Linked DNA regions of Homo sapiens. The protein of the gene in region 1 interacts with the protein of each later gene in a biochemical or structural test. Each region holds a gene or a part of one and is shown in the gene's direction. Other genes may lie near its edges.

Evidence for each region.
Region 2: the proteins of S100A7A (region 1) and MYH9 interact in a biophysical measurement, tested with the Homo sapiens proteins (one large-scale study listed by IntAct).
Region 3: the proteins of S100A7A (region 1) and SLC8A1 interact in a biophysical measurement, tested with the Homo sapiens proteins (one large-scale study listed by IntAct).

Annotation. Positions count from the first base shown.
Region 1 is NC_000001.11:153,415,229-153,419,430, forward strand, and holds the start of S100A7A (protein S100-A7A), read left to right. Parts: upstream 1-1,291; 5' UTR 1,292-1,335; intron 1,336-2,837; 5' UTR 2,838-2,854; coding exon 2,855-2,995; intron 2,996-3,916; coding exon 3,917-4,081; 3' UTR 4,082-4,202.
Region 2 is NC_000022.11:36,290,430-36,294,076, reverse strand, and holds part of MYH9 (myosin-9), read left to right. Parts: intron 1-213; coding exon 214-318; intron 319-595; coding exon 596-748; intron 749-1,842; coding exon 1,843-2,091; intron 2,092-3,647. UniProt on the Homo sapiens protein: Cellular myosin that appears to play a role in cytokinesis, cell shape, and specialized functions such as secretion and capping. Required for cortical actin clearance prior to oocyte exocytosis. Promotes cell motility in conjunction with S100A4.
Region 3 is NC_000002.12:40,428,091-40,431,737, reverse strand, and holds part of SLC8A1 (sodium/calcium exchanger 1 isoform A precursor), read left to right. Parts: intron 1-1,433; 5' UTR 1,434-1,457; coding exon 1,458-3,265; intron 3,266-3,647. UniProt on the Homo sapiens protein: Mediates the exchange of one Ca(2+) ion against three to four Na(+) ions across the cell membrane, and thereby contributes to the regulation of cytoplasmic Ca(2+) levels and Ca(2+)-dependent cellular processes.

The DNA of each region.
Region 1 (4,202 bases):
GCCGTCATATGGGAAACTGGGAGAGGGAGAAACAGGTCCCCCTGGTTACATAAGAACTGACAGAGAAGGAAGTTGAAGAAAGATGATGGGTGGAGAAAATAGGTCCCACCTAGGGAGACATCACATCAGCTCTATGGAGCCCCAGAGTGCTTAAAGGGCTGGCACTAAATGAACCAGGACCTCTTGCGGCCTACAAGGAACATTGTAAGGGGGTAGCAGAAAAAGTCCATTTCAGTGATTCATCATCTCCTTTTCCTCACCATGCCCCAGGGACTCCTGTGCCTTCCCAACCCTCTTGCCCCTACCTGGTTCAGGCTTTCCACAGCAGGTTAGGGCACATTATAGCCAAGGGCACAACTCCCAACTCCTACACAGGCTGTTTTGCATAGGAGGAGGAAAAACACTGAAGACTTTCTGGGAAGTTAGTGCCATGGGGCAGGAAAGAACTTTTCCCACTCCCTACCTCCAGGCTCATTCCATGGGGCGGGGGGGGCGGGGGTCACTCCACCACTCAACCTAGATAGTGAGGCCCCTGACCCCAGTCCCCCCACCTAAATCCAGGGCTTCTGTGAGGGGCTGACCAATGGTTAGCAATGAAGTAATCCTGCTTCCCTCCCTGGACTTTGAGTTCCCATAGGGCAGACCCTGATGCAACCCAAGACCTATAGCACAGGGGATAAGAGTAAGGATTTGATTCAGGCTTTTCTTTGTTCGTGTGATGATTTGTTGTGTTTACTAGCTGAGTAAACTTGGGAACATCTCAACTTCTCCTTTCCTAAAATAGAGATTGCAGCACCTGCTTCTTAAGACTATGAGGGGAGGGTTGAGGAGGATGCAAGAGCAGCAGGTGTCTTGATGTCTAGACATTAAAACGCTCAGTAAGCGGTGGGGGTCATAGAACAGGCTGTCACAACAAATGTGTGGAAGTACTGGGGGAGGGAATAAACAAGACCATGCTGCCTTTGGGAGTCTGAAACTCCATTCTCTTTGGGTCCAGAGGCCCAGTGCTCTTTTCTCCCATTTCCTGACCTGTTACTACACATGTACCGCTGCCTTACCCTCAAATCAAGATTGAGCCAGAGAAGGCCCCAGGTGAGGTCTCTGGGGTGGGGTGGGACCTGGTGACCTGGGACCCTGGCCAGAAATCCTGAGCACAGCCTCCTGGGTGTGTCCCACACACCTGATATGGGACAAGCCTCCAAGAAACAGATGACAGAGGTGGCCCCAGGCCTCCCAACCCGTGGGAAGAGCCAGGCTGAGCCTTATAAAGGACTGCTCTTTGTCCAAACACACACATCTCACTCATCCTTCTACTCGTGACACTTCCCAGTTCTGGTAAGTCTCACCTGCCTCTTTGCATTTTCTAGAAGTGCCCAGTGCCCAGCCTGCCATGCTGCCTGTAGGAAGGGAAAGGGCTGTGGACAAAGTCTCAGAAGCCTGGGTCTAGGCCAGCTCTGCCATTAGCTGGGCTGTGTGACCTTCACTTGACCCCAAAAGCCCACGTCTGTACAACCAGGTGGCTGAACCAGACCTGTCCATTGCTCCTTTGGGATCTCCTGAGACAACTCCTGTGGAAATGTCCCCAGTGGGACCTGAGCACAGGACCCTCCCTTTCCTTCCTGTCTTCTTCCTCCCTGGATTCATTCTCCTTTTGGGATCCCAGTTGCTGAATCCCCTCCCCAGCTCTGCCCCCACAGAGGGAGGAGGGATAAGGATCCCCTGTGAATGCTTTGGAGGCTCTCCAAACCCCCAGGCCTTGGACCTGTAAATTCTCAGTCAATCTCTGGGCACAGGGCTTGGCCTCTGGCCTTGGCCTTGGCCTCAGATTCAGAAAGCTTTGAGTGGCTTCTCTTAGTCAGTTGCTGGCACGGAGCTTTCTCCTGCGTTGAGAGGTGTTGGGGGTTTATTGTCAGATGCCCACATGCGTTAGCCAAGGTCCTTTTCTGGTTCTTTGGAAAGTGTAGAAATGAGAGCTGCACTGTCTTATTTTTCAGGCTTGGGGTGCAGGGCAGCCCAGGCTGGCTACTGGCTGGAAGATCTGCTTTGGAAAGTCAGACATTTTTATTTAAACAGGGTCAACCCTTGGTGATTCAGAGGGTGCAGATATTTCCCAAGAGCAGACATGAAGCGACTCCCACCTCACTCCCACCCCATCCAGCAGCTTAAGAACCAGGGAGTTATTTCTGTTCCTTGTAACAGAGGCAATTCTTGTTTCTCATTCCCAAGGGAATGTAGGAAGGGCCCCCTGTCCTCGGGAGAGGGCTGTGTTTCCTGCTCACACTCATGTCCACGCTCACATGTGCACCTGGAGCCTGCACGCACTGTGTCATGCAGGGCTTGCACTTGAGTCAAGGTGGGGCCCACGGTGTCTGGTTCCTGAAGCAGCCGAGGAGGGTCAGACACCAGATCACCAAGGCCATTGTCCTGCCCCCGTGACTCTCACCCCGACTGTGAAGCTGGAGGAGATGGATTTGGTGCTGTTTCAAGAGTGGGGTCCGCCATGTGCTGGTTGAGGCTGGGGGGTCCCAGCTTAGTTCTTCTATGTGTTGCTGGCCTCCGACTCTCCCTGCTTCTCCTTCTCTGAAGCACTGTCCACAGCTGGACTTCTGCCATCCACCTGCATCTCTTCTTGGCCCTGGCCAGGATGGGCCGGGTCTCAGACTTGGTCCTACCCTCTCATTTTTGAACAACTTATCCCATCACATTTAAAAAAATCAAGTTCCTTCTGCTCCATCTTAGGGCTGTTTTTACTCTGTCCTCAGCCCTCCTTCTAACACCCCCACATAGAGACCTTAATTCAAACTAAGGTAAGAAATGATTGTCTTTATTTCCTGAAGGCTTTTTGAAAGCAAAGATGAGCAACACTCAAGCTGAGAGGTCCATAATAGGCATGATCGACATGTTTCACAAATACACCGGACGTGATGGCAAGATTGAGAAGCCAAGCCTGCTGACGATGATGAAGGAGAACTTCCCCAATTTCCTCAGTGCCTGTGTGAGTTGGGGTCTAGCTTCTCAATGTTGGTTGGACCCTGGCATGGCTGAGGATACATTTTGCTATGTGGCCTTGGACAGGTCACCCTCATCCTCTGATTAAAAAGTTTCCCATTTGCAAATAGGGCTTTATTGCTTGGATCATATGTGAATCTAAGGATGGTAGGCGAAAAAGTATGAAAATGGGAAAGAGTTATACAGATATAAAGGAGGTTATTAGATGGTCAGCAAAGTGTGCAGCTTGAGGACAGTGCACAGTCCCCTCCCAGCGCTCACTGACCCTCTCTCTGTGAGACTGAAACTCACATGCTCAGGTCCTGCTTCCCAAAGGCCCCACATCAACATCCCTGAGATTACTGGGAAAGCACTAGAAGTTCCATTGCTAGTAGAAATCAATAGCCCTCTTTGCAATAAAGAAAACTCATTGGCAAATCTGAAAAAACCTGTGGGCTACTAGGTACCAAAGGGTCTAGATGACCAAGAGTAGGGAACCCAGAAGATGAGTTTGGTGGAAAAGGAGAAGAAAGGAGAGGAGGTCAGAGAAAGAAGAGAACAAAGCATGAGGGCCAATTTTGAGGCCCTGGGGTAGAACTAAGGTAGGCAGTGCCCTTAAATGCTGGGAACAGGCAAGATTGAGGCTGGGGCAGGGGACTGCTCTCCCCAAGGTCACTTAACAGAGTGCCTCGGGACAGGACCTGCCTCCCATCCTGAGGTGTGAGACAAAAAGTCTCCTTAGAGAACTCCAGGGATAACACTCACGTCCTCACCCCAACTTCACCCACTCACCCTGTGCTCTCAGCCCCACGACCATGCCTGTGCAGATCTAGGTACTTGTCTGTATCTCTGCCTCCTCCTCTCCCCTCCCAGCCCAAAACTTGTTTGTGATTGAATTTTTCTATTTTGTATGTTTTTCTCTTCACAGGACAAAAAGGGCATACATTACCTCGCCACTGTCTTTGAGAAAAAGGACAAGAATGAGGATAAGAAGATTGATTTTTCTGAGTTTCTGTCCTTGCTGGGAGACATAGCCGCAGACTACCACAAGCAGAGCCATGGAGCGGCGCCCTGTTCTGGGGGAAGCCAGTGATCCAGCCCCACCAAGGGGCCTCCAGAGACCCCAGGAACAATAAGTGTCTCCTCCCACCAGACACTTGCCTTATTTCTTCTTCTCTTTGGTGACCTACATTGTCAAAACTACCAATTCCAGG
Region 2 (3,647 bases), on another chromosome or scaffold:
GGACCCTGGCGCGGGCAGTGGGCCCTAGCAGCAGTTGTGGCCCAGGTCCCCAGGTGCATGTGTGCTCTCTGTCTCTCTCTCTTCTCAAACTGGCTCCTCAGACCCTCATGGTTCAGCTTGTGACTCAGGTCCAGCTTTACCTAAAGGAGATGAGGTGGGGCAGGAGCAGTGGGGGTGGGTCCATGGTCCTTTGTGTCTCCCCGCCCGGTGCAGGTGGAGCTGGACAACGTGACCGGGCTTCTCAGCCAGTCCGACAGCAAGTCCAGCAAGCTCACCAAGGACTTCTCCGCGCTGGAGTCCCAGCTGCAGGACACTCAGGTAGGGGTGGCGCCAGGTTCCCAGAAGGTGGACCCCTCCAGAAAGGCCTCTGTGTCCACGCAACATTAGCTTCAGAGCCCATCGGATTGCCCATCCTCTCCTTCATCTGCTTCATCCTGTGGGTGGGTCTCTGCGTCCTCCCAGCTCCCTCCAGGTCTTTACGTGGCCATCCCCTAAATCAGCAGGACCAGCTCCTCCCTCTCCTCAAGGGTGTGGGGTTCCTGGGTTTTGGACACCACCCTCCTAAGCACCCGCACCCCTCTCAACCCGCGAGTAGGAGCTGCTGCAGGAGGAGAACCGGCAGAAGCTGAGCCTGAGCACCAAGCTCAAGCAGGTGGAGGACGAGAAGAATTCCTTCCGGGAGCAGCTGGAGGAGGAGGAGGAGGCCAAGCACAACCTGGAGAAGCAGATCGCCACCCTCCATGCCCAGGTTTGGAGGCCTGGGGGACCGGCCGGACTCTGCAGGCTGGGGAGCTGCTGGCCGGGCACTGGCCTGGGCACTGCAGGACAGCCCTGCCCGCTGGGCCGGCCCATTGCTGCTCTCCCCCTGGGAAGCCAACCGTGCTCTCCCACATCAGTGCTCTCAAGGAAAGGAATCCAGGGATCTGTGGACTTAGATGGGGGACACCACTATTTTCACTATTTTACACCTTTATTTTCACCAGTCTTTAGCTGAAATTCAGCATTGCTTCCATTATGGATGTAGGCAGCAAGCCATGGTGGTGGCAGTCCCTGTGCCGTCATCATCTGTAGAAATGGCCAGTTACCCTGTCAGGGTTGTGGCCGAGCTCCTTGGCCTCATGGGTCCCAGGCCTGCGCTGTTTGTTATCTGATGTGCTATCTAGCAGCACGTGGCTTCCTGAGCCATGGTTTTTTAGAATGTGTGACAACTGCATTTTTCTGTACTGGTTGCCCTGCTGATCCCATGTTTATTTCATGCCTGTTACAACATTGTCATGAGAAGGAGTCCCTTGGCCTCTCTAGACTGCGAAGGGGTCCGTAGCCTAATATGGTTTCAGAGCCCCTGCTCTAGATCCTATCTTGGGCCTCCATGTGCCAGGCCAGAAGGCCTGAACCACCTCGGGATGGGCTGGGAGTCCATTCCACAGTCAGGGTAGGAGTAGCCCGCGAGCGTGCCTGATTGTGGGTTTATCTCCAAGTGCAAGGATGGGGCTGGGTGATGGGGACCCCGTGGACACCCTACAGGGCACTGGCCCTGCTCTCTGGGAGCAGTCTCCGTAGAGCAAGAGGCTTGGTGTGGATGTGGGCTGGGAGCCCCCACAGCGGGCCTGGGGGTCAGCCTCCCCCGGGCTTCACACAGTAGACAGATGCCCCTTTGCAGAAGCTCCATTTGTCTCGCCCCTGTGGAGAGGGAAGTGACTGGGGGAGGCGGTTTCATAACTGGGCAGATCCCTGGTGCCCCTTCCACGGTGTGGCAGGCAGGCTCCCAGCTGCCCCAGGGACGGGTGTGCCACCTGAGCAGGTGCCATCTCGGGCATCTGCTTACTCCTTGCTCCTGCCCAGGTGGCCGACATGAAAAAGAAGATGGAGGACAGTGTGGGGTGCCTGGAAACTGCTGAGGAGGTGAAGAGGAAGCTCCAGAAGGACCTGGAGGGCCTGAGCCAGCGGCACGAGGAGAAGGTGGCCGCCTACGACAAGCTGGAGAAGACCAAGACGCGGCTGCAGCAGGAGCTGGACGACCTGCTGGTGGACCTGGACCACCAGCGCCAGAGCGCGTGCAACCTGGAGAAGAAGCAGAAGAAGTTTGACCAGGTGTGTGGCCGTTGGCCCCATCCTTTGCATTTCCTCTCCTTCAAGCACTGAGTCCAAAGCAAAGGGCCCATCAGAGAAAGCCTGGGCTCCCTCAGGGTCTCGCCGGGGAGGGGCCGTGCGGGGCCAGTGCTTAGAGGACCCTCAGGCTCTGGCTTGTTGAGGGTCCCAGGGAGAAGGCCAGCGGAAGAGGGCGTCTTCATGCGATGGGTTGAGGAGTGACTTTTCCTTTCTGATTTTTTACATTTTTCAGATTTTCTCTAATGAACTGGTTTGACTGTCTTTTTTTTTTTTTTTTTTTTTTTAATTTTTTTATTGATCATTCTTGGGTGTTTCTCGCAGAGGGGGATTTGGCAGGGTCATAGGACAATAGTGGAGGGAAGGTCAGCAGATAAACAAGTGAACAAAGGTCTCCGGTTTTCCTAGGCAGAGGACCCTTTGGCCTTCCGCAGTGTTTGTGTCCCTGGGTACTTGAGATTAGGGAGTGGTGATGACTCTTAAGAGCATGCTGCCTTCAAGCATCTGTTTAACAAAGCACATCTTGCACCGCCCTTAATCCATTTAACCCTGAGTGGACACAGCACATGTTTCAGAGAGCACAGGGTTGGGGGTAAGGTCACAGATCAACAAGATCCCAAGGCAGAAGAATTTTTCTTGTACACAACAAAATGAAAAGTCTCCCATGTATACTTCTTTCTACACAGACACGGCAACCATCCGATTTCTCAATCTTTTCCCCACCTTTCCCCCCTTTCTATTCCACAAAACCGCCATTGTCATCATGGCCCGCTATCAATGAGCTGTTGGGTACACCTCCCAGACGGGGTGGTGGCCTGGCAGAGGGGCTCCTCACTAACCAGTAGGGGCGGCCGGGCAGAGGCGCCCCTCACCTCCCGGACGGGGCGGCTGGCCTGGCGGGGGGCTGACCCCCCCACCTCCCTCCCGGATGGGGTGGCTGCCGGGCGGAGACGCTCCTCACTTCCCAGACGGGGTGGCCGCCGGGCGGAGGGGCTCCTCACCTCTCAGACGGGGCGGCTGCAGGGCGGAGGGGCTCCTCACCTCTCAGACGGGGCGGTTGCCAGGCAGAGGGTCTCCTCACTTCTCAGACGGGGCGGCCGGGCAGAGATGCTCCTCACCTCCCAGACGGGGTCGCCACTGGGCAGAGGCACTCCTCACATCCCAGACGGGGCGGCGGGGCAGAGGCGCTCCCCACATCTCAGACGATGGGCGGCCGGGCAGAGACGCTCCTCACTTCCTAGATGTGATGGCGGCCGGGAAGAGGCGCTCCTCACCTCCTAGATGGGATGGCGGCCGGGCAGAGACACCCCTCACCTTCCAGACTGGGCAGCCAGGCAGAGGGGCTCCTCACATCCCAGACGATGGGCGGCCAGGCAGAGACGCTCCTCACTTCCCAGATGGGGTGGCGGCCGGGAAGAGGCTGCAATCTTGGCATTTTGGGAGGCCAAGGCAGGCGGCTGGGAGGTGGAGGCTGTAGCAAGCCGAGATCACGCCACTGCACTCCAGCCTGGGCTCCATTGAGCACTGAGTTAAAATCACTT
Region 3 (3,647 bases), on another chromosome or scaffold:
CTGTAATCCAGTTCCTCTTTTAACTTTTTCCAGGACATAAGGGTATGTTCTGACTCAGGGCTTCTTCCTATTGCTGCTTTATCTGATGTCATAACTAGTCCATCCTGCAAGGCCTGGGAGACAGTCACCTTGACTTGGAGCAGACCTTCCTCTACTTCAGTTTCCCCTCACCTCCATCCCAGGTTCTGGAAGCAGAAGGGATGTAAGGTCTGAGTAGAGTTTTGCTTGAGCTGGTGGGTGGACTTAAGGCCATGGTGGTTGAGTCCACTGCTATGCCTACCAAGCTTTGTGTGCTGCTCACTGACTCTGTTGCCATGGCCCTCCTTGCCTACAGTCCTTCATCATGTGTATATTTTGTGGTCACTCTTGTCATGCCACATGAGCTAATTTAAATGGAATTATTGGTCCTGCATTTTTTGGTCACTTGAACCCTCGACAGAACTAATATGTATTTTAGAATGACCATGGAAAATATGACCGACACCGAGAAGGAACATTTTAAGGTTGGTGACGCTGATTCCACAGCCTGCCAGGCGCTTACCCACAACTAGGCCTTGGCCTGTTTATCTCCCTTTCCAGCCTGCAGAAAAACAGGCTCTGTACACAGATGTGAAGAGCTGTGCTTGAAGAACCAGATGCCCAGCTGCTAATGTATCAGCAGACCTGGGCTGGCTGAAAATTAGAAAGAAATGTGCTCTCATCAAAACATGCTTTTAAAAACTGTACTTAATGTGTGGAAATATTGCATTATAGCAGAATTTTTTTCTCCTCAAGAACAAATGCCATTGAGCTTTGATTTCAGGCAAGCTTGAAGTTTTGTTTCCAAGTAAGTGTGGAGCAATAGGACATGATTTCATGAAATACAGTGTAAGATGCTCTCTGGCGTTTAAGATAATCACCAGGCCTTGTGTTGGTGGGATTTTTTCGGAGTCTGATTTTCAAAGCATCAATTGTAATAAGGTGCTTTTGGCATTGAAACCGTTTTTGGAAGATGATGTACTAACACAAATTTAGAAGAAAATCTGCTTTAGTAAAAAGGAGGAAATTGTTTAATGCTTCAAAAGTCCTGTGATTTTGGCTATTAGCATGCATAAATGTGTGTTTAATAAGGCAAGGCTATATAAATTGAACTTTTCCTTTCCAGTAAGTCAATTGTGTATCTTGCTCAGTGAATGGGTACTACATGTAGTAAATTCACAGAAAGATTGAGTTGTAAACTTTACAAAGGATTGCTTAGTCACTGATGGAGTCTTAGAACAATCATTCACCATAGATTTTGTGATGGTCAAATATAAACAAATTTCGGTTTTGTGATGGTCAAATATAAACAAATTTTGGTAAGAGTAATAAAAATAAGTAATTAGTAATGCTTTGGCTGCAGCTCTAATGACATGACTTTTTTTCTGCCCTCTCCCCCATCTTATTTTTACCAGTAGGTTGTGACAGTTGGAAGTGTCATGTACAACATGCGGCGATTAAGTCTTTCACCCACCTTTTCAATGGGATTTCATCTGTTAGTTACTGTGAGTCTCTTATTTTCCCATGTGGACCATGTAATTGCTGAGACAGAAATGGAAGGAGAAGGAAATGAAACTGGTGAATGTACTGGATCATATTACTGTAAGAAAGGGGTGATTTTGCCCATTTGGGAACCCCAAGACCCTTCTTTTGGGGACAAAATTGCTAGAGCTACTGTGTATTTTGTGGCCATGGTCTACATGTTTCTTGGAGTCTCTATCATAGCTGATCGGTTCATGTCCTCTATAGAAGTCATCACATCTCAAGAAAAAGAAATAACCATAAAGAAACCCAATGGAGAGACCACCAAGACAACTGTGAGGATCTGGAATGAAACAGTTTCTAACCTGACCTTGATGGCCCTGGGATCTTCTGCTCCTGAGATTCTCCTTTCAGTAATTGAAGTGTGTGGCCATAACTTCACTGCAGGAGACCTCGGTCCTAGCACCATCGTGGGAAGTGCTGCATTCAATATGTTCATCATTATTGCACTCTGTGTTTATGTGGTGCCTGACGGAGAGACAAGGAAGATTAAGCATTTGCGTGTCTTCTTTGTGACAGCAGCCTGGAGCATCTTTGCCTACACCTGGCTTTACATTATTTTGTCTGTCATATCTCCTGGTGTTGTGGAGGTCTGGGAAGGTTTGCTTACTTTCTTCTTCTTTCCCATCTGTGTTGTGTTCGCTTGGGTAGCGGATAGGAGACTTCTGTTTTACAAGTATGTCTACAAGAGGTATCGAGCTGGCAAGCAGAGGGGGATGATTATTGAACATGAAGGAGACAGGCCATCTTCTAAGACTGAAATTGAAATGGACGGGAAAGTGGTCAATTCTCATGTTGAAAATTTCTTAGATGGTGCTCTGGTTCTGGAGGTGGATGAGAGGGACCAAGATGATGAAGAAGCTAGGCGAGAAATGGCTAGGATTCTGAAGGAACTTAAGCAGAAGCATCCAGATAAAGAAATAGAGCAATTAATAGAATTAGCTAACTACCAAGTCCTAAGTCAGCAGCAAAAAAGTAGAGCATTTTATCGCATTCAAGCTACTCGCCTCATGACTGGAGCTGGCAACATTTTAAAGAGGCATGCAGCTGACCAAGCAAGGAAGGCTGTCAGCATGCACGAGGTCAACACTGAAGTGACTGAAAATGACCCTGTTAGTAAGATCTTCTTTGAACAAGGGACATATCAGTGTCTGGAGAACTGTGGTACTGTGGCCCTTACCATTATCCGCAGAGGTGGTGATTTGACTAACACTGTGTTTGTTGACTTCAGAACAGAGGATGGCACAGCAAATGCTGGGTCTGATTATGAATTTACTGAAGGAACTGTGGTGTTTAAGCCTGGTGATACCCAGAAGGAAATCAGAGTGGGTATCATAGATGATGATATCTTTGAGGAGGATGAAAATTTCCTTGTGCATCTCAGCAATGTCAAAGTATCTTCTGAAGCTTCAGAAGATGGCATACTGGAAGCCAATCATGTTTCTACACTTGCTTGCCTCGGATCTCCCTCCACTGCCACTGTAACTATTTTTGATGATGACCACGCAGGCATTTTTACTTTTGAGGAACCTGTGACTCATGTGAGTGAGAGCATTGGCATCATGGAGGTGAAAGTATTGAGAACATCTGGAGCTCGAGGAAATGTTATCGTTCCATATAAAACCATCGAAGGGACTGCCAGAGGTGGAGGGGAGGATTTTGAGGACACTTGTGGAGAGCTCGAATTCCAGAATGATGAAATTGTGTAAGTTCTATATTATATATGTGTGTGTGTGTGTGTGTGTGTGTGTGTGGTTCAGTGTGTTTATGAATGTGAGTCTGTGCATCATTTTTTAAATTAAATAGCATGCAAGGAATGGAATAGCTTTTATACAAGATCCCTTTCAAGATATCAGTCTTTGCTTGGGTGCCAGTTATCAATATGCTCTGCACACAGAGATCTTAAATTTATTTACATCAGAATTTTATTTTTACTTTTATACATTTACACATTTTAACTACATTGTGACTATGATAAAATGAGTGATGGGACACAGTTTATCAGATGACTTAAGACAGGCTGAGAAATTGGTCTTCTATTTTGAATCACATGGTATATACTCAGAAAAGGAATATTTAAAACATCA